2 linked regions of the Homo sapiens genome follow. Each later gene encodes a partner of the first gene's protein in a complex. Each region holds a gene or a part of one and is shown on either strand. Other genes may lie near its edges. The genes, in order: DDX19B and GLE1.

Region 1 (10,614 bases):
AGGCGGAGCTAGCAGTGAGCCGAGATCAGGCCACTGCACTCCAGCCTGGGCCGCAGAGCGAGACTTTGTCTCAAAATAAATAAATAAATAAATAAGAATTTTTTATTCACCCATTAAGAGAGATTGTAGGCCAGCACAGAGACTCACACCTGTAATCCCAACACTTTGGGAGGCCAAGGCAGGAGGATCAATGGAGCCCAAGTGTTTGAAACCAGCCTAGGCAACATAGTGAGACTCTGTTAAAAAAAAAAAATTCTTTTTAATTAGCTAGGCGTGGTGGCATTCGCCTGTAGTCCCAGCTGCTCAAGAGGCTGAGGAAGGAGAATCACTTGGAGCCCAGAAGCTGAAGGCTTCAGTGAGCTGAGATCTCGCGACTGCACTCCAGCCTGGGCAACAAAGCAAGACCCTTGTCTCTCTCTCTTTTTTTTTCCTTTTTTTGAGGCAGAGTTTCACTCTTGTTGCCCAGGCTGGAGTGCAATGGCATGATCTCGGCTCATGTCAACATCTGCCTCCTGGCTCAGCCTCCCGAGTAGCTGAGATTACAGGCGCCACCACCACGCCCAGTTATTTTTTTTTCTTCTATTTCTAGTAGAGATGAGGGTTTCGCCATGTTGGCCAGGCTGGTCTTGAACTCCCGACCTCAGGTGATTCGCCTGCCTTGGCCTCCCAAAGTGTTGGGATTTCAGGCGTGAGCCATCGCGTCCGGCCCCCTTGTCTCTTAAAACAAAAAAAAGAAAGAAATTGTAATTGAGGCCCAAAAGTCTCATTCTAATATAATTATCTAATGATATTTTTCTGTGATATTTTTCTCTTGTAGATGTCAACTACATGCTAGAAAGAATGCTATCTTAATGCAATGTGCAAATTATGTATTTTAGGAAACTACTGGCAAGTTCTTGATTTACTCTAGGCTAAGCAAATAGGCCTGTAGGTGGGAGTGAGCGATATGCACATGGCTTGCTCTCCAGTAGAACATTTGTTGAACTCCATCTTGGGGCATGAGAAAGATAACCAAAGAACTGAAATAGTACAACAGCTGTGATTGCCCCACTACCCTCCAGCCTGGGCCGCAGAGTGAAACAACAGGCCAGGCACAGTGGCTCATGCCTGTAATCCCAACACTTTGGGAGGCCGAGGCGGGCAGATCACCTGAGGTTGGGAGTTCAAAATCAGCCTGGTCAACCTGGTGAAACCCCATCTCTACTAAAAATACTAAAATTATCTGGGTGTGGTGGCGGCCACCTGTAATCCCAGCTACTCAGAAGGCTGAGGCAGAGGCTGCAGTGACTCAAGATTGTGCCACTGCACTCCAGCCTGGGAGACAAGAGGGAAACTCTGTCTCAAAAAAATTAAATTAAATTAAATTTAAAAAATAATAAAAACAACAAACAGAAACAGGCCGGCGTGATGGCGTATACCTTTAATCACCATACTTTGGGATTCTGAGGTGGGTGGATGGCTTGAGCCCAGGAGTTTGAGACTAGCCTGAGCAACATGACAAAACTCAACCTCTACAAAAAAATACAAAAATTAGCTGGGCATGGTGGCATGCATCTGTAGTCCCAGCTATTCAGGAGGCTGAGGTGGGAGGATAGCTTGAGACAGGGAAGTAAAGGATGCAGTAAGCCATGATCGTGCCACTGCACTCCAGCCTGGGTGGCAGAATGAGACAGTGTCTCAATTGAAAAAAAAAAGAAAGAAATGGAAACAAGTGGAAAAAAAAAAAAACTAACATAGCTTTGGAAGGATGTAGCGCTAGACTCTTAACTCTCCCATGGCATCTTAGCTACTTTTAGCATCTATAAAATGGGTTTACAATGCTGGCTTATTTGGTACTAAGTCAAATGGGGATGGCTGAATTTTTTTTTTTTTTTTTTTTTTTTTGAGACGGAGTCTCGCTCTGTCGCCCAGGCCGGACTGCGGACTGCAGTGGCGCAATCTCGGCTCACTGCAAGCTCCGCTTCCTGGGTTCACGCCATTCTCCTGCCTCAGCCTCCCGAGTAGCTGGGACTACAGGCGCCCGCCACCGTGCCCGGCTAATTTTTTGTATTTTTAGTAGAGACGGGGTTTCACCTTGTTAGCCAGGATGGTCTCGATCTCCTGACCTCATGATCCACCCGCCTCGGCCTCCCAAAGTGCTGGGATTACAGGCGTGAGCCACCGCGCCCGGCCAAGGCTGAATTTTTAAGAACCTCTAAAGGAATATTTCAATTGAGCATATTATAATTTTTTTGTCTAATGTACTTTTCAGACCATAAAACGCTAAAGGAATCACCTAGGATCTTAAAATATTGCTAAATTGAATAGGTCTGGGGTAGGGCCTGAGAGCCTGAATTTTTTTTTTTTTTTTTTTTTTTTTTTGAGACGGAGTCTCACTCTGTCGCCCAGGCTGGAGTGCAGTGGCGCGATCTCTGCACACTGCAAGCTCCGCCTCCCGGGTTCACGCCATTCTCCTGCCTCAGCCTTGCGAGTAGCTGGGACTACAGGCGCCCGCTACCACGCCCAGCTAATTTTTTGTATTTTTAGTAGAGACGGGGTTTCACAGTGTTAGCCAGAATGGCCTCGATCTCCTGACCTCGTGATCCACCCGCCTCGGCCTCCCAAAGTGCTGGGATTACAGGCGTGAGCCACCGTGCCCGGCCGAGAGCCTGCATTTTTAACAGGCTTCAGGCGATATCTATGCTGCTGAGAGATTATACTTGGAATACCAAGGGTCTAGATTAGAGGATGTGCGTCTGCACCTATTTGTTCAGATGCAAAATTTTTAAAAAGTTTGACCCACGGGGGGAGATGCTAATGGCTCATGATTCACCAAATGAGTGACCACTATGTGTTAGTCACTGAGGATCAAGATTAAAGATCTTGCCCTGCCCTCATGGAGTTCCCAGTCTCACCAGGAAGCCAGACATTTAGCAGGAAACAAAGCCCTCTGCGGGAGGCTTGCGCTTGTCTTTGGCCCCCAGAGTTCCTGGGGCGCGTGCCCGAGCGCTGTACCGTCCCCTCAGCTGATTGGCTGACAGGATTTCCAGGCCTCAGCCAATGAGGCTCCGGCTTGGCCAGTGCCAAGAGCAGCGGTTGTTGGAGTGTAACTGCCATGCTCAGCCGCGATGGCTGGGGCTGCCGGGCGCGTCCAAGATCGCGCCCTGCGGCGGTTTCCCATCACCCTGCCTGTGGGCGACGTGAGTATCTGCGAGGGTAGAAGCCAGACCCTTTCCTCCCACGTTTAGGTGCCTTCCTCGCCCCTACTCCTGGGTAGAGGAATAACAATATTTCTCGAGGCTTCGGCCCAAGGTCTTAGCCTTGTGATCTAGAATCCGCCATCTGTGAGGTGGGTACTTCCTGTGATTTCAGGGGAAACTGAGACTGGCTAGGCTCACGTGGGAATAAATGCAGGAGGCTGAATTCCAATCCAGATGCTCTTATTCCCCGAACACTCTTCTTTCCACGCCCGCTTTGGAAACCAGGTTCCTTCTTAGCCGGAGTCTCACAAAGCGCAGGTGTATTGGGGGTGAACTTAGGAGAGTCTGAAACCCCGATGCTATTTTTAAGTTTTTTTGTTTTTTGTTTTGTTTTGAGACAGGCTGGAGTGCAGTGGCATGATCACGACTCACTGCAGCCTTGAACTCCTGGGATCAAGTGATCCTCCCACCTCAGCCTCAGGAGTAGCTGGGACTACAGGCTCACGCCACCACGCCCAGCTACTTAAAAAAAATTTTTTTTTTTTTTTGGTAGAGACGGGGTCTCCCTATGTTGCCCAGGCTTGCATATTTATTTAGTAGAAGAAAAAACACATGCTAAAATCGTGTACGGGAAGGATAAACACCAAATTTGGCATAGCTGCTGTCTTCCTGGGATGAGTATACGGAGATTATCAATTGGACCTTAGTAATTTTATTTATTAAGTTTTGAGGTGGGAATCTAAGTATTTGTTATACCCTTTCTTGTTTGTCTGAAATACATTTTTAAAAGGGAAACATGGAGCCAAGCACAGCTGCACACACCTGTAGTCCCAGCTACTTGGGAAGCAGAGGCAGGTGAACCTCTTGAACTCAGGAGTTCAAGGATATAGTATGTGCTGTAATGGTGCCTGTGAATAGCCACTGCACTCCAGCCTGGGCAACATAGCAAGACCCTGTCTCTAATTTAAAAAAAACCATGCATATGGAAAATAATTTCAGAGGATAAAGCATACTCAATCCACCCCCACCCTTCTAGAGGCCCTCACCAGGGGCAGCCATGGTTATCAGTTTTGTGTGTATCTTAAGCATTTTTTTTTTTTTTTTTGAGACAGAGGCTCGCTCTGTTGCCCAGGCTGGAGTGCAGTGGCATGATCTCAGCTCACTGCAACCTCTGCCTCCTGGGTTCAAGCAATTCTCTGCCTCAGCCTCCCAAGTAGCTGGGATTACAGGCACCCACCACCATGCTCAGCTGATTTTTGTATTTTTAGTAGAGACAGAGTTTCACCATCTTGACCAGGCTGATCTTGAACTCCTGACCTCGTGATCCACCACCTTGGCCTCCCAAACTGCTGGGATTACAGGCGTGAGCCACCGCACCTGGCCACATTTTTTTTTTTTTTAAGAGGCGATGGTTTCACTATGTTGTCCAGGCTGGCTTCGAACTTCTGAGCTCAGGCGATCCTCCAACCTCAGCTTCAGGAGTAGCTGGGACTGCAGACACAGGCCACTGCTCCGGTCTTCTTAGGCATTTTCCATAGTGTATAAAAGCATATATGGGAGCTTGGGGGCTTTTGGGGTGGGGGTTCCTGTTTGTTTTGTACAAGTGAACCTACTATATACGGTCCTGCAACTTGGGCGATGTAATTTTTAACCTCATTAAAATGTTTTGCAAATTTCATTAACCTCTAGCCCTGTGAAACAATATAATTTATCTGGGAAAATATCCCCAGGGTTGCTTCTGAATTGATGAGATGTAGGTCATGGCTACCAAGGTGGTGTTTGCCTTTTTCTTTTTAGCACATCCTCATGTGTAAGGTCAAAAACAAAAAACAAAAACGTCTTCTCCAGTTAACCCTGTGAGAGTGCAGGAAAAAATAATCATAGCAAGTAGAATGTTCTCTGGAACTGCTTTACCCTTTCTCAAAACGTTTTTACTCTTACAGTACTGGTAAAATTCCACAGAGAACCCACCATGGCTTGATTTTTGTTTGTTTGTTTTTATTTATGTATTTATTTGAGACAGAGTCTTGCTCTGTCGTCCAGGCTGGAGTGCAGTGGCATGATCTTGGCTCACTGCAACCTCCACCTCCCGGGTTCAAGCGATTCTCCTGCCTCAGCCTCCCAAGTAGCTGGGACTACAGGTGCATGCCACCACACCCAGCTAATTTTTGTATTTTTAGTAGAGACAGGGTTTCACCATGTTGGTCAGGATGGTCTCAATCTCCTGACCTCGTGATCCACCTGCTTTGGCCTCCCAAAGTGCTGGGATTACAGGTGCAAGCCACCGTGCCCAGTCTATTTATTTATTTTTTTTGAGACAGAGTTTCACTCGTCGCCCAGGCTGCAGTGTGATGGCATGATCTCGGCTCACTGCAACCTTTGCCTTCCGGGTTCTAGTGATTCTCCTGCCTCAGGCTTACAAGTAGCTGGGATTACAGGTGTGCACCACCATGCTTGGCTAATTTTTGTATTTTTAGTAGAGATAGGGTTTCACCATGTTGGCCAAGCTGGTCTTGATATCCTGACCTCAGGTGATCCACCCACCTTGGCCTCCCAAAGTGCTGGGATTACAGGTGTGAGCCATTGTGCCCGGCCTCATGGCTTGAAATTAACTTATTGTTGTATAATATTGGCAAAATGAAAGAGGTTGGGATTCATTTTTTTCAGATTGTAGGAAAATGCCTAGTTTCTTTCTAGGGAAGTAACAAGGGAAGAGAAGCTTCTTTGATTCTAGTTAGGAGAAAGCAGTTCTTTCATTTAATCCTTATTTTACAACTACTAAAAGCCCAAGATATTTCTTCCTATTTATTTATTTGTTTATGAGGCAGAGTCTTACTCTGTTGCGCAGACTAGAGTGCAGTGACACAAACACTGCTAACTGCAGCCTCAACCTCCTGGGCTCAAGTGATCCTCCCACCTCAGCCTCCCAAGTAGCTGGAACTGCAGGCATGTGCGACGACACCTGGCTAATTTTTAAATTTTTCTTGTGTAAGGATAAGGCCTCGCTATGTTGTTGTTTTCAAACTCCTGGATTCAAGCGATCCTCCCACCTCCACCTCCCAAAATGCTAGGATTACACATGTGAGCTACTGTGCCTGGCCAATCCTGGCACTTTGGGAGGTGGAGGTGGGAGGATCACTTGAGCTCAGGAGTTTGAGACCAGCCAGGACAACACAGCAAGATCTGTCTCTATCTTAAAAAAACAAAAGGCCGGGTGCAGTGGCTCACGCCTGTAATCCCAGCACTTTGGGAGGCCAAGGCAGGCGGATCACGAGGTCAGGAGATTGAGACCATCCTGGCCAACATGGTGAAACACCATCTCTATTAAAAATAGAAAAACTAGCTGGGCATGGTGGCGCATGCTTGTAATCCCAGCTACTTGGGAGGCTGAGGCAAGAGAATTTCTTGAACCCAGGAGGTGGAGGTTGCAGTGAGCCGAAATCGTGCCACTGCACTCCAGCCTGGGCGACAGAGCCAGACTCAATCTCAAAAAACAAACAAAAACCCAAGTGCTGAGATTACAGGCATGAGCCACCACACCTAGCTCTATTTAATTATTTTACTATTTTAATTTTATTTATTTTTTTCCTAGACAGAGTTTTGCTCTGTCACCCAGGCTGGAGTGCAGTGGCCCTGTCATGGCTCACTGCAGCCTAGACCTCCTGGGCTCAAGTGATCCTTCCGCCTCGGCCTCCAGAAGTGCTGGGATTACATGCATGAGCCACCGCACCGTCTGTTTTCTTCCTTTTTAACATTCTCCTGATTCTACAACGCTTACATAGGAGAGCTGCAATTCCTCCTCTTGGGGTACAAATTTATGAGTGCAGGTGCAGTTTTGTTACATGCCTAACAAGATTGCATAGTGGTCAAGTGGACTTTTAACCAAATGGGTTGTCAGGGCTGATTGCCAACATCTGGACATTTTAAATTACCAATCTGAAAAGGGAAACAGCTCTGTGCTTGTTTTGCATTTTGGTGACTATTGGTAATGGTTTTCTGTTTTGATATATTCAATCTGTTCAATCTGTATTAGTGCCTACTCTGCCACTGTGTTGGGCGGGAATCTGATTTTGTTCTTTGGTTGGAGATCCAAGTTAACCAGAGCTTAGGCATTTTAAGATAACTACCTCAGCTTGATAGGAAAGCTTGCTCTGCCCGGGGTTGAGGGGTACGGGTCTGAGGGCAACAGAATCGACAGCCTCAAGTGGGCAAAGGGTGGCCAAACAGGAGTGGCCTCCGACGTCACTGTGGCGCGCCGCTTCCGGTCTGCAGCCTTGTAGTGGGGCTGGAGCAGAGCCTGCCGCGAACCCCCGGAGCCCACGATCCCTCGTGCCATCCCTCGAATCCACCAGCACGAGCGTCCCACCCGCGCCTGGGACCATGGCCACTGACTCATGGGCCCTGGCGGTGGACGAGCAGGAAGCTGCGGCTGAGTCGGTGAGTTGGCTTCAGCCCTAAAAGGGTCAGGGGACTAGTTCTGGTCGGAGACTTGGTCCCTGGGAAAGAATGTTTCCCAGGTTGATTAGAGGCTGGATGGGGTGGCGGGGAGGATAGGGATGGAGCCTGGACCCTGAGCTGGCTTTGTTTACGCAGCCGCCTCCGCGTTACGTAAGCGCAGGTGAGTGCTCCTATCGGTAAAGCGCTCAGCTGCCTGTCTGTCTTCCTGGAACCAGGAAGAATCATAGATTGCACCCATCACCCTAGATTGTGTTTTGTTTGTTTTTAATTGAAATAGAGACATGGTCTTGCTAGGTTGCCCAGGCTAGTCTGGAACTCCTGGTCTCAAGCTATCTTCCTGCCTCGGCCTTTCAAAGCACCAGGATTACAGGCTGAGCCATTGTTCCTGGCCGCCCCGGTTTGTAATAGTTATTTTAGGTGTCATTCTCCACCTCTACATTCAGAGCTTCTTTGGCTCAGGGACCATGTCTTTGCTCATATTTGTGTGCTTCCTCAGTGATAAATGATGGACCCAGTAGGTGTGGCAGTCAGCAAATCCTTTCCTCATCGGCTTCACTTTGTTCTTTTTTTCTGGACCTGACACATGGTAAGCAAGAGATGTGTTAAACACTACTGCGTAGAATTAATTTCTCCCACCGAAACACTTTAAATCCTAGTAGGCTTTGAACCTACTTCTGTTAGTACTTATTGCTATGACTTCCTCAAGAATAAGAACCTTGTCTTTTATTTTTTATAGCTCATAAAAAATAAGTTGTATATACACATTGTTTAAAGAGTGAAGTTATTTTAAAAACAACGGTTCCCGCCAATTTTTTTCCTCCCCAGAGGCAACTCCTTTTTTTTTTTTGGAGACAGGGTCACACTCTGTTGCCCAGGCTAGGGTGCAGTGGAGTGATCTTGGCTCACTGCAGTCTCTGCCTCCCAGGCTCAAGCCATCCTCCCACCTCAGCCTCCTGAGTAACTGGGACTGTAGTCATGTGCCACTATGCCCAACTACTTTTTGTATTTTTTTTGTAGAGATGGGGACTTGCCATGTTGCCCAGGCTGGTCTCGAACTCCAGCGTGCAAGTGATCCACCTGCCTCAGCCTCCCAAAGTGCTGGGATTACAGGTGTGAGCCACTGCATCCAGCCTCTTTTTTCTGTTTCTTTCTTTCTTTACATATATTTTTTGAGAGAGGGTCTTGCCCTGTCACCCAGGCTGGAGTGCATTGACACCATCTCTTGCCAACTACAACCTCCCCTTCCCAGGCTCAAGTGATCCTCCCACCTCAGCTTCCTGAGTAACCGGGACTACAAGCATGTGCCAACATATGCAGCTAACTTTTTAATTTTTTGTGAAGACGAGGTCTCACTATATTACCCAGGTTGGTCTTGACCTGCTGGGCTCAAGCCATCCTCCCACCTCGGCCTCCCAAAGTGTTGGGATTATAGGCCTGAGCCACTTTGCCTGGCCCTTTACTTTTCTATAAAATTTATTTTACTTGGAATTCTTAATTGCCTTATGTTTATGCTTCATTTTTTTTTCTTAATTATCAATTCAACCCCAAACTGTCTTCCAGTTGTCTAAGTTTATCTCAGGATGCTTAGACTCATCAAGTATTCTATCAATTCCATTTCTCCTAGGCCTTTAAGTCTGCTTCAAATTGGACTAGTTACTCCTGTCTTTAGAGCACAGTTCATATTGGGGAATAGAGGGAACAGGGCAAATTTCCCTTCAGCCTCATTCTGCAGATTCCTTCCTCCTTTCTCTTGTCTTTTGGATCTCTTGGATCCCTTCCTTTCTGTACCCCTACTTTTCCATCTTTCTTGATTTATTCCTTATTTTAGTGCAGCCATCTGTCAGCTTTCTGGAGGTGTACGGGAAGTAAATTACTTTAAGAATATTCCATGTCTTAAAAAATCTAACTTTGCCCTGTAATTTGGATAATAGTTTGGCTGGGTATAGAATTGTAGGTTGAAAATTATTTTCCTGCCAAATTTTAAATGTATTGTTCCATTGCCTTCTAGATTTCTGTATTTGTTGTTGAAATGTTTGAGACCATCCTGATTCTTGATGTGACTTGTTTTCCCCTTTCTAAGCTTGGAGAATCTTCTGTTTGTCTTTAATATTCAGAAAATTTATGGTAATATGTCTTGGTATGGGTGTATTTTCATCCATATTACTGGCCCCTGGGTGTGGGTACTTTCAATCTGAAAAACTCTTGTTCTTCAGTTATGAGAACTTTTCCTGAATAATTTCATTGCTGATTTCTTCTTCTTTGTTTTTTCTTAATTCCCTCTTTTCCAGAACTCACTTTCTCTCTTTCTTTCTCTCTCTCTCTTTTTTTTTTTTTTTTAAGACAGTGTCTGTCTATGTTGCCCAATTTGGAGTGCAGTAGCTATTCACAGGCAGAATCATAGTGTACTACAACCTTGAACTCCTGGGCTCAAGTGATCCTCCTGCCTCAGCCTCCCTCGTAGCTGGGACTACAGGTGCGCACCACTGCATAGCTTTTCCCAGAACTCTTATTAGATGAATGTTGGATCTGTTGGACTGGCCCTTTAATTTTTTTTTTTTTTTTGAAATGAAGTTTCGCTCTTGTCCGCCAGGCTGGAGTGCAATGGCACGATCTTGGCTCACTGCAACCTCTGCTTCTTGAGTTCAAGCGATTCTCCTGCCTCAGCCTCCCGAGTAGCTGGGATTACAGGCATGTGCCACCATGCCTGGCTACTTTTTGTATTTTTAGTAGAGGTGGGGTTTCACCATGTTGGCCAGGCTGGTCTTGAACTCCTGACCTCAAGTGATCCGCATGCCTCAGCCTCCCAAAGTCCTAGAATTACAGGCGTGAGCCACCACACCTGGCCAGCCCTTTAATTTTTTTAAAAGTCAGGTTTATGGAGGTATAATTTACACAGAGTAAAATTAAACTTTGTTAGTGTACAGTTCTATGAATTTTGACAAAAGCATACAGTTGTGTAACTACCACCACAGGCAAC
Region 2 (9,566 bases), on another chromosome or scaffold:
GAGTCTCACTATGTTGCCCATGCTGGTCTTGAACTCCTAGGCTCCAGTGATCATTCCGTCCTGACCTCCCGAAGTGTTGGGATTATAGGCATGAGCCACTGTGCCTGGTCTTAGAATATTTTCAGAAAGAAACCCCATACCCATTAGAAGTCACTCCACACTCGCCTCCCCAAACCTCCTGGCAACTCCTAAGAAAGTCCCTATGTCTCTATGGATTTCTATTTTGGACACTGCACAGCGGGCCCATGCTCTGTTTCTCCTCGTTAGGCGGACCGCCGCTACCAGAGCCGGCTGCAAGACCTGAAAGATCGCCTGGAGCAGTCCGAGAGCACCAACCGCAGCATGCAGAACTACGTCCAGTTCCTCAAATCATCATACGCCAACGTGTTTGGGGATGGTCCCTATTCCACCTTCCTGACTAGCTCTCCCATCCGCTCCCGATCTCCTCCTGCCTGAGGCCACTTATCAGGGCCTGGAGCCCTGATGGAAGCCATAGGAACTCCAGAGTTGCCAAGCCATAGCTGAGAAGCCTGGTGGTTTTCCTCTCCCAGTGAAAAAATGGGTTCAGGGTCTTGTCCTTAGCTACTAGCTCTAGAAAAGTCCCAAAAGCAGCAGAAGGTGAAGCAGGAAGCACTTGGTTTTCTCCTTCCTGATATAGTCACCTGTTGGAAGTGTTAAAATTTCCTCGACAGGCCTTAAATTTACTACTACATTAGGGTACCACATTTTAACTTACCATGACTTTGCTCCTTCCTTTCCTGAGAAAATATTTCCACTGGATTTTTTCCACCAGTCCCCTTACAGCCCTCATTGTTTTAGGAATCTCTCTCAGGTTTTTTCTGACCTAAACCAGCAGGAAGTCGTCCTGGGCTGTAAGCACCATCACTTGCTTTTTTTTTTTTTCTGATTTCACAAGTGTGGTGTTTTCCCAAGGCTCCCTTCCCAAGCTCAGTGCAAACCTCTCACTCCCAAGTTTCTTTGAGGCCACTTGCCCCCAAGCACTTCACAATAGACCCTCGAGGGCTTGTGTCCATTTGGCCTTTTACAAGTGTAATGCCAATTTCATTGATTTTTGTTTCTTTTGGCCTGATTTGTATCTCTGGAATGCATTTATTCTTGAAATATTTGTGTGATTTTACAAAAAGCTTTTGTAATCAGTTATTTAAGGCTCCATTTGATGATTTCCTTTACCCAACCAGTCCTCATCCCTCCTCTAAAAAATGATTAAGTAAAATGCTGCAGGACAGCCAGTAGACATTTTTAAAGTACTTGGTGCCTGAAACATCAGGCTTCTCATTTCATTTTAGCTCAGGTTGGTGCTTTCACATTGTAATCAATGAACTGTCAGGAGGGAACAAACTGTAAGAAGGATTGCTTGGTGTTTTAGGGTAGATCACTTTAGCTATTAGGAAGAGGATGGGGTAGTGTACAGTATATATTTTTAAAATGTGAATTGGTTTCTGAATAAGAATCTGGGCCATTTTTGTTCACCATTTTTGTTCGTACTGTGCTAACCTCTGCCCTTCTGATTCTAGCTAGTATTGGCCTGGGTGGTCCAGTCTTCTCACCTCTCAGCCACTCTGACTCAACTCTAGAGAATTTCTTCTCTGTTCTTTTTTCTTCTGGAGACAGGTCTCTGTCACCCACACTGAGTGCAATGGCGGGAACATGGCTCACTGCAGCCTTGACTTCCCTAGCTCAAGCAATCCTCCCACCTCAGCCTCCACAGTAGCTGAGAGCACAAGTGTATGCCACCATGCCCATCTAATTTTATTATTTTTTGTAGAGACAGATCTCACCACATTGCCCAGGTTGGTCTTGAATTCCTGGGCCCAAGTGAACCTCTCATTTTGGCCCCCCAGAGTGCTGGGATTACAGGGGTGAGCCACCACACCCAGCCTTCTCTGTGTTCTTGAATCCACCTAGGCATCTGGATTTCAAAGACCAGAAATCTCTTTTCTCTACCAAATTTTGAGGATATTTATAGTTTCCAGCTTTCAGTTTTTCCAATGAAGGTAATTCCAGCTACCACTGCCAAAAAAACTAAGCCCATTTTCATACTCTTAACGTAAATAGACAAGAACTTATAATAGGTGAAAGACCTTCCCGAGAAAGGACAATTGACAAACTTCCACCAGCATGTATATATATCTGTATAACTCATTATTATTTTTGCCAAACTAGAGAAAACCTCAGTGCAGGGCACTGCTATGTAACTCTGGTGTGAGCAACACCTCTCTTGGAGTCCCTTGCTGGGACTCTGGGGACTCTTCCAACAATTTTTCTTTTTAAAATATTTTTATTACAAGAAGTCCAGGGAATTTTTAAAAACTCAGAAAATGAAAATTGTTCACATTGCTCATACTCCAGAGAGAATTCTTCCTACCTCAAACTGAGATCTCACGAGGTGGTGGACAATGGAAGGGTCAGAAAGTCTGGGGTCCCAGTTAGAGCCGTCTCTGGACAATTGTGACTCATTCTATTTTTATTGAGATATAATTCACATAAAATTCACTCTTTTTATTTTTTTGAAACAGGGTCTCCCTCTGTCATCCAAGCTGGTGAGCAGTGGCACAATGATGGCTCACTACAGCCTCAGCCTCCTGGGTTTAAGCGATCTCCTGCCTCAGCCTTCTGAGTAGCTGGGAGCACAGGTGCATGCCACCATGCCTGGCTAATTTTTGGATTTTTTTTTTTTTTGGTAGAGGCAGGTCTCATCATGTTGTCCAGGTTGGTCTCAAACTCCTGGGCTCAAGCCATCCTCCTACCTTGGCCTCCCAAACTGCTGGGATTACAAGCATGAGCCACCATACCTGGCCTAGAATTCACCCTTTTAAAGTGTAAATATAGGCCAGGCGTGGTCACTCACACCTGTAATCCCAGCACTTTGGGAGGCCGAGGCGGGTGGATCACCTGAGGTCAGGAGTTCGAGACCAGCCTGGCCAACATGGTGAAACCCTGTCTCTACTAAAAATACAAAAATTAGCCGGGAGTGGTGGTGGACGCCTGTAGTCCCAGCTACTTGGTAGGTTGAGGCAGGAGAATCACTTGAACCCAGGAGGTGGAGGTTGCAGTGATCCAAGATCACGCCACTGCACTCCTGCCTGGGCAACACGGCGAGATTCTGTCTCGAAAAGATAAAGTGTATATATAATTCAATGGTTTGTAGTATATTCACCAAGTTGTGTAGCCATCACCATTATCTAATTCTAGACCTAGTTTTTTCTTTTTTCGAAATGGAGTCTCTCTCTGTCACCCAGGCTACAGTGCAGTGGCACCATCTCGGCTCACTGCAGCCTCTGCCTCCAGAGTTCAAGGGATCCTCCTGCATCAGCCTGTGGGGACTATAGGTGCATGGCACTTTGCCTGGCTAATTTTTGTATTTTTTGTAGAGACAGGGTTTTGCCATGTTGCCCAGGCTTGTCTGAAACTCCTGACCTCAGGTGATCTGCCCACCTTGGCCTTCCAAAGTGCTGGGATTACGGCACCCAGCCAACCAATTTCATCACTCCCAAAAAAGAAACGCCATACCCATTAGCAGTCACTCCCCATTCCCCTCCCCCAGCCCCTGGCAACTAGTCATAAAGTTTCTCTGGCTCTATAGATTTGTCTCTTCTGGATATTTCACATAAGTGGAATTGTCCAACATGTGGCCATTCATGACTGGCTTCTCTCAGCATAATGCTTTCAAGATTGATGTTGCAGCGTATCATCAGCACTTTATTTTTATGGCCCCATAACATTCCATTATATAGATGTGGTGTTTCCTCCTGCCAAACAGGGCTGGTTGGGATTCCAAAGAAGCACTATGGCCGGGCGCAGTGGCTCATGCCTGTAATCCCAACGCTTTGGGAGGTCGAGGTGGGTGGATCAACTGAGGTCAGGAGTTCGAGACCAGCCTGACCAACATGGTGAAACCCCGCCTCTGCTAAAAATACAAAATAGCTGGGCGTGGTGGCTGGCGCGTGTAGTCCCAGCTACACGGGGAGCTGAGGCAGGAGAATCGCTTGAACCCGGGAGGCGGAGGTTGCAGTGAGCCGAGATCGAGCCACTGTACTCCAGCCTGGGGGACAGAGCAAGACTCTGTCTCAAAAAAGCAGCATTAAACCCAAAACATTTATTAGGGAAGCTTACAGAGTGGGCTGCAGCAATTCTCGCGACAGACAGAGAGAAGCGGTGTTTCACCTAGGTACATCCCCAGCGAGGGGTCAGGGTATGAAGTTTATATGAGGGTTTATGGAATTTGGCTAAAAGCAGGGGTCAGTTTCAGCGTTTTGGGCAATAACCTAGATATCCTTAGTGCCTAGGGATATGCAAGGCCCGTGTTTGGTTGCAAGTCTGCAGGAAAAAACTTGCAGCTGGCTGGGTCACAGGGCGGTCAAGGCACTCTGATACTTGGTCAGTGCACAGAAAGCGGGGGAACTCGGGAACCGCGCACATAGTACTATATTTTATTTATCCATTCACCAATGGATGGACGTTTGGGTTGCTTTCACTTTTTGGCTATTATGAATAACACTGCTGTGAACATTCATGGACAAGTTTTTATATATACATAGGTTTCATTTCTTTGGCGTATTTTATATATATATATATATTTACCTAGGAGAATTGCTGGGTCAAATGGTAATTGTTTAACCTTTTGAGGAACTGCCAGACTGTCTTCCACAGCAGGTGCTTCATTTTACAGTCCCATGAGCAGTGTATGAGGGTTCCAGTTTCTGCACAGTCTCAAGGCACAGACAAATTTTCAGCAGCCCCGGGGATTGGGAGCGGTGGTTACCTCTGCGGAACGTGCCCCGACAGCCAAGCCCTGCGCGCAGGCGCACTGGTGGGAGGGCGGGAACGCGGGAGCGTCGCCGGAGGTGGGGCGTGCAGGCGTTAGGGGCGGGGCTGTGCTGCGCGCGCGTCCCGGAAGCAGAAGCCTGTGTGGCCTTCCCGGCGGCTGATTCGAGGGCTTGTTTGGTCAGAAGGGGGGCGTCAGAGAAGCTGCCCCTTAGCCAACCATGCCGTCTGAGGGTCGCTGCTGGGAGACCTTGAAGGCCCTACGCAGTTCCGACAAAGGTCGCCTTTGCTACTACCGCGACTGGCTGCTGCGGCGCGAGGTGAGCGGTGGCCCCGGAGGACGTAGGCCTTTCCGGCCCCTCGCGACCGAAACCTTCTCCCTAGCCGTTGGCACGTTCTGCTCCCGGGAACCCGTGCAGTCTAACAACCTGCATTTATTTCTTGACTTCTGTGTGTACATCCCTCTGTCCTGGGGTTTCTGTCCTCTTCAGCCTATTTTAGCGTTTCGGGGAGCTCCCCTGACTTCACAGGTGCCCCGCGCTCTGAAGGCTTCATTGCTACCCTCCGCCAGTTGGGCGCCTTCTCCGTTCTGCTGTTGTCAAAGCAATCTCGGCCCCAGGTTCAGTTAACTTACTGTATGTCTCATGTGCTGGGAGCTCTAGAGTTTGCGACGAACGATTGACACGACCTAATCCATTGCTACTAGTGAAATGACCAAATTTTTAGATTGATTTGGCAGACCTGGAAAGTGAATGGGGGCGTGGTCACCGTACCTAGCATTTGCAAAGCTCTGCGCGAGAAGTGGAGGGATGTGGAGAGTTAAGGCCGAGCTCCCATTCCCGAGTCGCTGCTAGTTAGCTACAGATAAGGCGTTGTCCTGCATCCTCAGACTTCTTGGGAAACAATCCTAAAGTATTTCCCTGTCTTTTATGTTGTTGACAGTTTTGAAAAATACAGACCTTACATTCTGTAGGTTGACTGCCAGCATATGTGCTTTCAAACCACCAGACCAAGGTTAAGCATTCTTGGCAGGAATACCACAGAAATGATGCCATGGCTTTCTCAGTAAGTCACATGAGGAGGCACACAGATGTCAACCCATCCCAACACTGGTGATGCTAATCTTGATCACCTGGTTACGTTATTATCTGCCTGGTCTCTCCGTTTAAAATTCGTCATTTTTCCCTTAGTAATTGTTGGGAAGTAATAATACCAGTATCCTTTTTTCTGGGCAAACCTTAATCCTCCATGGCTTTAGCATTCATTGATGTTTTCCACATGAATCGATACCTCTATGACGTTGCCAGATCCTGTTTCTTTATATCCGCTATTCCTTCTGCATTTGTTAGTTGGCATTCTACTGTAAGGAGGTGCTTTCTATTTTATTCAGTGAGTTGTAATCCATTACTTTTATTATTTATTTATTTTATTTTAAATGTCCCAGATTTTGTAAGCTTGTATCAAAATAATCACATGCAAGGCTAGGCGTGGTGGCTCAGGCCCGTAATCCCAGCACGTTGGGAGGCCGAGGGGGACGGATCACTTGAGGTCAAGAGTTCGCGACCAGCCTGGCCAACATGGTGAAACCGCATCTCTACTAAAAATACAAAATTAGCCGAGCATGGTGGTGCATGCCTGTAATCCCAGCTACTCGGGAGACTGAGGCATGAGAATTGCTTGAACCCTGGAAGCAGAGGTTGCAGTGAGCCGAGATTGTGCTGCTGCACTCAAGCCTGGGTGACAGAGTGAGACTGTGTCTCAAAAAAAAAAATGTAGCCTTGTAAATATGTACAACAATTATGTATTCATAAGAATTAAAAAGAAAAATGTCCCAGATTTGGCTACTGGGCACCTCATTAAGTTGGTTCCTGTGTTCCTGTGACATATTTCCATCTTTCATTGACATTTCTTTACTTTTTGACACAAAAAGATGTCCCAGGTGCAAGTTTCCCTGTCTTAATCCTGGAATCAGCTATTTCTCCAAAGAGGCTGACTCTTTTGAAGTGGAGGATGGTGCTGTATTGGCAAACCAAGATCTGGGAGTTGAGTGTGTTGAGATTCTTGATTGGGTACCATTGCTTCTAGGCCTTCTCAGTAGACAGAGCTAGGAAATAATACATATCTAAATATGTACACACATCACCACACACACATTTATGTACTGTCTATTTGTGTGTACATATATATTATAAAACCATGACTTCATACTGATAAATGCCACTTCCAACCCAGCACTTCACTTTTCTTTCTAATCTTACCCCATCCATGTTTGTAAATATGTTACCTAGCAGTGAGAAGTTTGGCTCCTGTTATTCTCAATATGTTTACTTATTTGCTCAATCAGTTTACTTTATCTCATTGTAGCAATCTCTGAACTACTCTAGTTTTTTCATTTATTTATTATATCATAGGTAATCAGTACTTATTTTCTCATACAAAGATGTTCCACGCTCATCTTATATTTTTCTGCCTCCAGTTCTGGAACTTACCTTTTCTGCAGAGACCCCTGGTTTCCTTTGATTTAAAATTATATTTACAAACCAAGATCTGGTACTAGATATGCTCATTATTACTACTAAGGGTGTATACATACATATCCATATCTATTTCTATTTTTTAAAATATTATTAGGCTGGTTGTGGTGACTCATGCCCATAATCCCAACACTTTGCGAGGCTGAGGCAGGACGAGTGCTTGAGGCCAGTTCAAGCTGGGAGCCAGGCTTGGTGTCTCACACCTGCAATCCCAGCACTTTGGTAAGTCAAGGTGGGCAGATCACTTGAGCCCAGAAGTTCGACACCAGCCTGGGCAATGTGGAGAAACCTCACCTCTACAAAAAATACAAAAAAATTAACCAGGTGTGGTGGTGCGTGCCTGTAGTCCCTGCTCCTTGAGAGGCTGAGGTGGGAGTATTACCTGAGCATGAAAAGTTGAGGCTGCAGTGAGCCGTGATCACGCCACTGCACTCCAGCCTGGGGAACAGAATGAGAGCCTGTCTCTCAAAAAAAAAAAAAAAAAAATAGTCGGGCGTGGTGGCTCACGCCTGTAATCCCAACACTTTGGGAGGCTGAGGTGGGTGGATCACCTGAGGTCAGGAGTTTGAGACCAGCCTGGCCAACATGGTGAAACCCTGTCTCTAGTAATAATACAAAAATTAGCCGGGTGTGGTGGTCGACACCTGTAATCCCAGCTGCTCGGGAGGCTGAAGCAGGAGAATTGCTTGAACCCGGGAGGTGGAGGTTGCAGTGAGCTGAGATCGTGCCACTGCACTCCAGCCTGGGTGACAGAGCAAGACTCCATCTCAAAAAAAAGGCTGGGCACACAGTGGCTCACGCCTGTAATCCCAGCACTTTGGGAGGCTGAGGCGGGTGGATCGCCTGAGGTCAGGAGTTCGAGACCAGCCTGACTAACATGGAGAAAACCCCGTATCTACTAAAAGTACAAAATTAGCCAGGCATGGTGGTGCATGCCTGTAATCCCAGCTACTCAGGAGGCTGAGGCAGGAGAATCACTTGAACCTGGGAGGTGGAGGTTGTGGTGAGCCAAGATCGTGCCATTGCACTCCAGCCTGGGCAACAAGAGCGAAACTCCATCTCAAAAAAAAAAAAAAAAAAGACCAGCCTGGGCAACATATCAAGACTCCATCTCTATAAAAAATGAAAAAATAATTAGCTGAATATAGTGGCGCATGCCTGTACTCCCAGCTGCTGGGGAGACTGGTTGAGGTGGGAGGATAGCTTGAGCCCAGGAGGTCAGGCTACAGTGAGCCATGATTAGGTCACTGCACTCCAGCCTGGGTAACAGAGTGAGACCCTGTCTCAAAAATAATTAATTTTAAAAATGAAAAAATATATACATCTAGGTTTGTGTAAGGATGCTTTACGATACTCGCACAATGACAAGATCACCTAACCCTGTGTTTCTCAGAACTTACCCCCATTGTTAAGTGACTGACATTCTACTGATTGTGTATACAGTAGCTTACTTCAGAATTCCTCGTGTTCTGTTCAGTGCTTTAGATTGCTTTCACATATGCTTTAGTGGGAATCTTTGTGCATTGTCCCTTTTTCTGTAGTTAGGGTTATTTAGTCTGATTTTCATTAGAAGGATAGTAGTCTAGGTCATTATCAAGAAACCACTGTACTTTGTTTTCATCTGATTGTTAATACATTACTTTGGGTCTTTGATGTTTATTTATTTAGGCCTTCTTAGATGTTCAGTAAGGCATGTAGTGGATTATACTGAGAACAGTTGACGTGTAAGTTGAGCTTAACCCTATTCTTTTCTCTAGGATGTTTTAGAAGAATGTATGTCTCTTCCCAAGCTATCTTCTTATTCTGGATGGGTGGTAGAGCACGTCCTACCCCATATGCAGGAGAACCAACCTCTGTCTGAGACTTCGCCATCCTCTACGTCAGCTTCAGCCCTAGATCAACCCTCATTTGTTCCCAAATCTCCTGACGCAAGCTCTGCCTTTTCCCCAGCCTCCCCTGCAACACCAAATGGAACCAAGGTAAGGTTGTGATCAGCTTAAGACAAAAGACATGGTGGCTGCAAAGTCAAAATGTTTAATATTGTCATATGACAGTGACCATACCCTAGGGGAAATAATGATTGCTCATTGTTGTAGCTGTTGTAGAGACAATGTTGACAGCACCATTCAGTGTTCTCTTTAGACAGATCCAGAGGGAGAAAAATCCCCTCTATTCTTAGTACCGAGAATAGTATAACTAATTTCATGAGCAATTGGATTTTTTTTTTTTTCTGATGAACGCTGCGTC

Evidence for each region.
Region 2: the proteins of DDX19B (region 1) and GLE1 are in contact, whole or in part, in a crystal structure (PDB 6B4J), measured with the Homo sapiens proteins. Residues at the interface, in NP_009173.1 of Homo sapiens: Cys325, Asn326, Tyr328, Gly329, Ala330, Ile331, Thr332, Ile333, Ala334, Glu356, Gly357, His358, Gln359, Arg378, Arg380, Glu381, Gly382, Lys383, Glu384, Lys385, Glu400, Gln401, Ser403, Phe433, Gly434, Lys435, Arg436, Asp469, Asp470, Leu471; in NP_001003722.1 of Homo sapiens: Lys416, Lys419, Met420, Gln423, Lys424, Thr427, Ile428, Ser431, Gln432, Ile433, Ser434, Thr435, Ile436, Lys440, Gln458, Ser459, Gly460, Lys479, Lys483, Lys486, Gln487, Glu490, Glu491, Ser494, His495, Gln554, Gln562, Asn565.

Annotation. Positions count from the first base shown.
Region 1 is NC_000016.10:70,291,739-70,302,352, forward strand, and holds the start of DDX19B (ATP-dependent RNA helicase DDX19B), read left to right. Parts: upstream 1-7,447; 5' UTR 7,448-7,559; coding exon 7,560-7,616; intron 7,617-10,614. UniProt on the Homo sapiens protein: ATP-dependent RNA helicase involved in mRNA export from the nucleus.
Region 2 is NC_000009.12:128,499,800-128,509,365, forward strand, and holds the start of GLE1 (mRNA export factor GLE1), read left to right. Parts: upstream 1-4,919; 5' UTR 4,920-5,006; coding exon 5,007-5,105; exon of another isoform or gene 5,106-6,174; intron 6,175-7,416; exon of another isoform or gene 7,417-7,433; coding exon of another isoform or gene 7,434-7,541; intron 7,542-9,076; coding exon 9,077-9,298; intron 9,299-9,566. Other genes in the region: ODF2 (outer dense fiber protein 2), read left to right, coding at 268-456. UniProt on the Homo sapiens protein: Required for the export of mRNAs containing poly(A) tails from the nucleus into the cytoplasm. May be involved in the terminal step of the mRNA transport through the nuclear pore complex (NPC).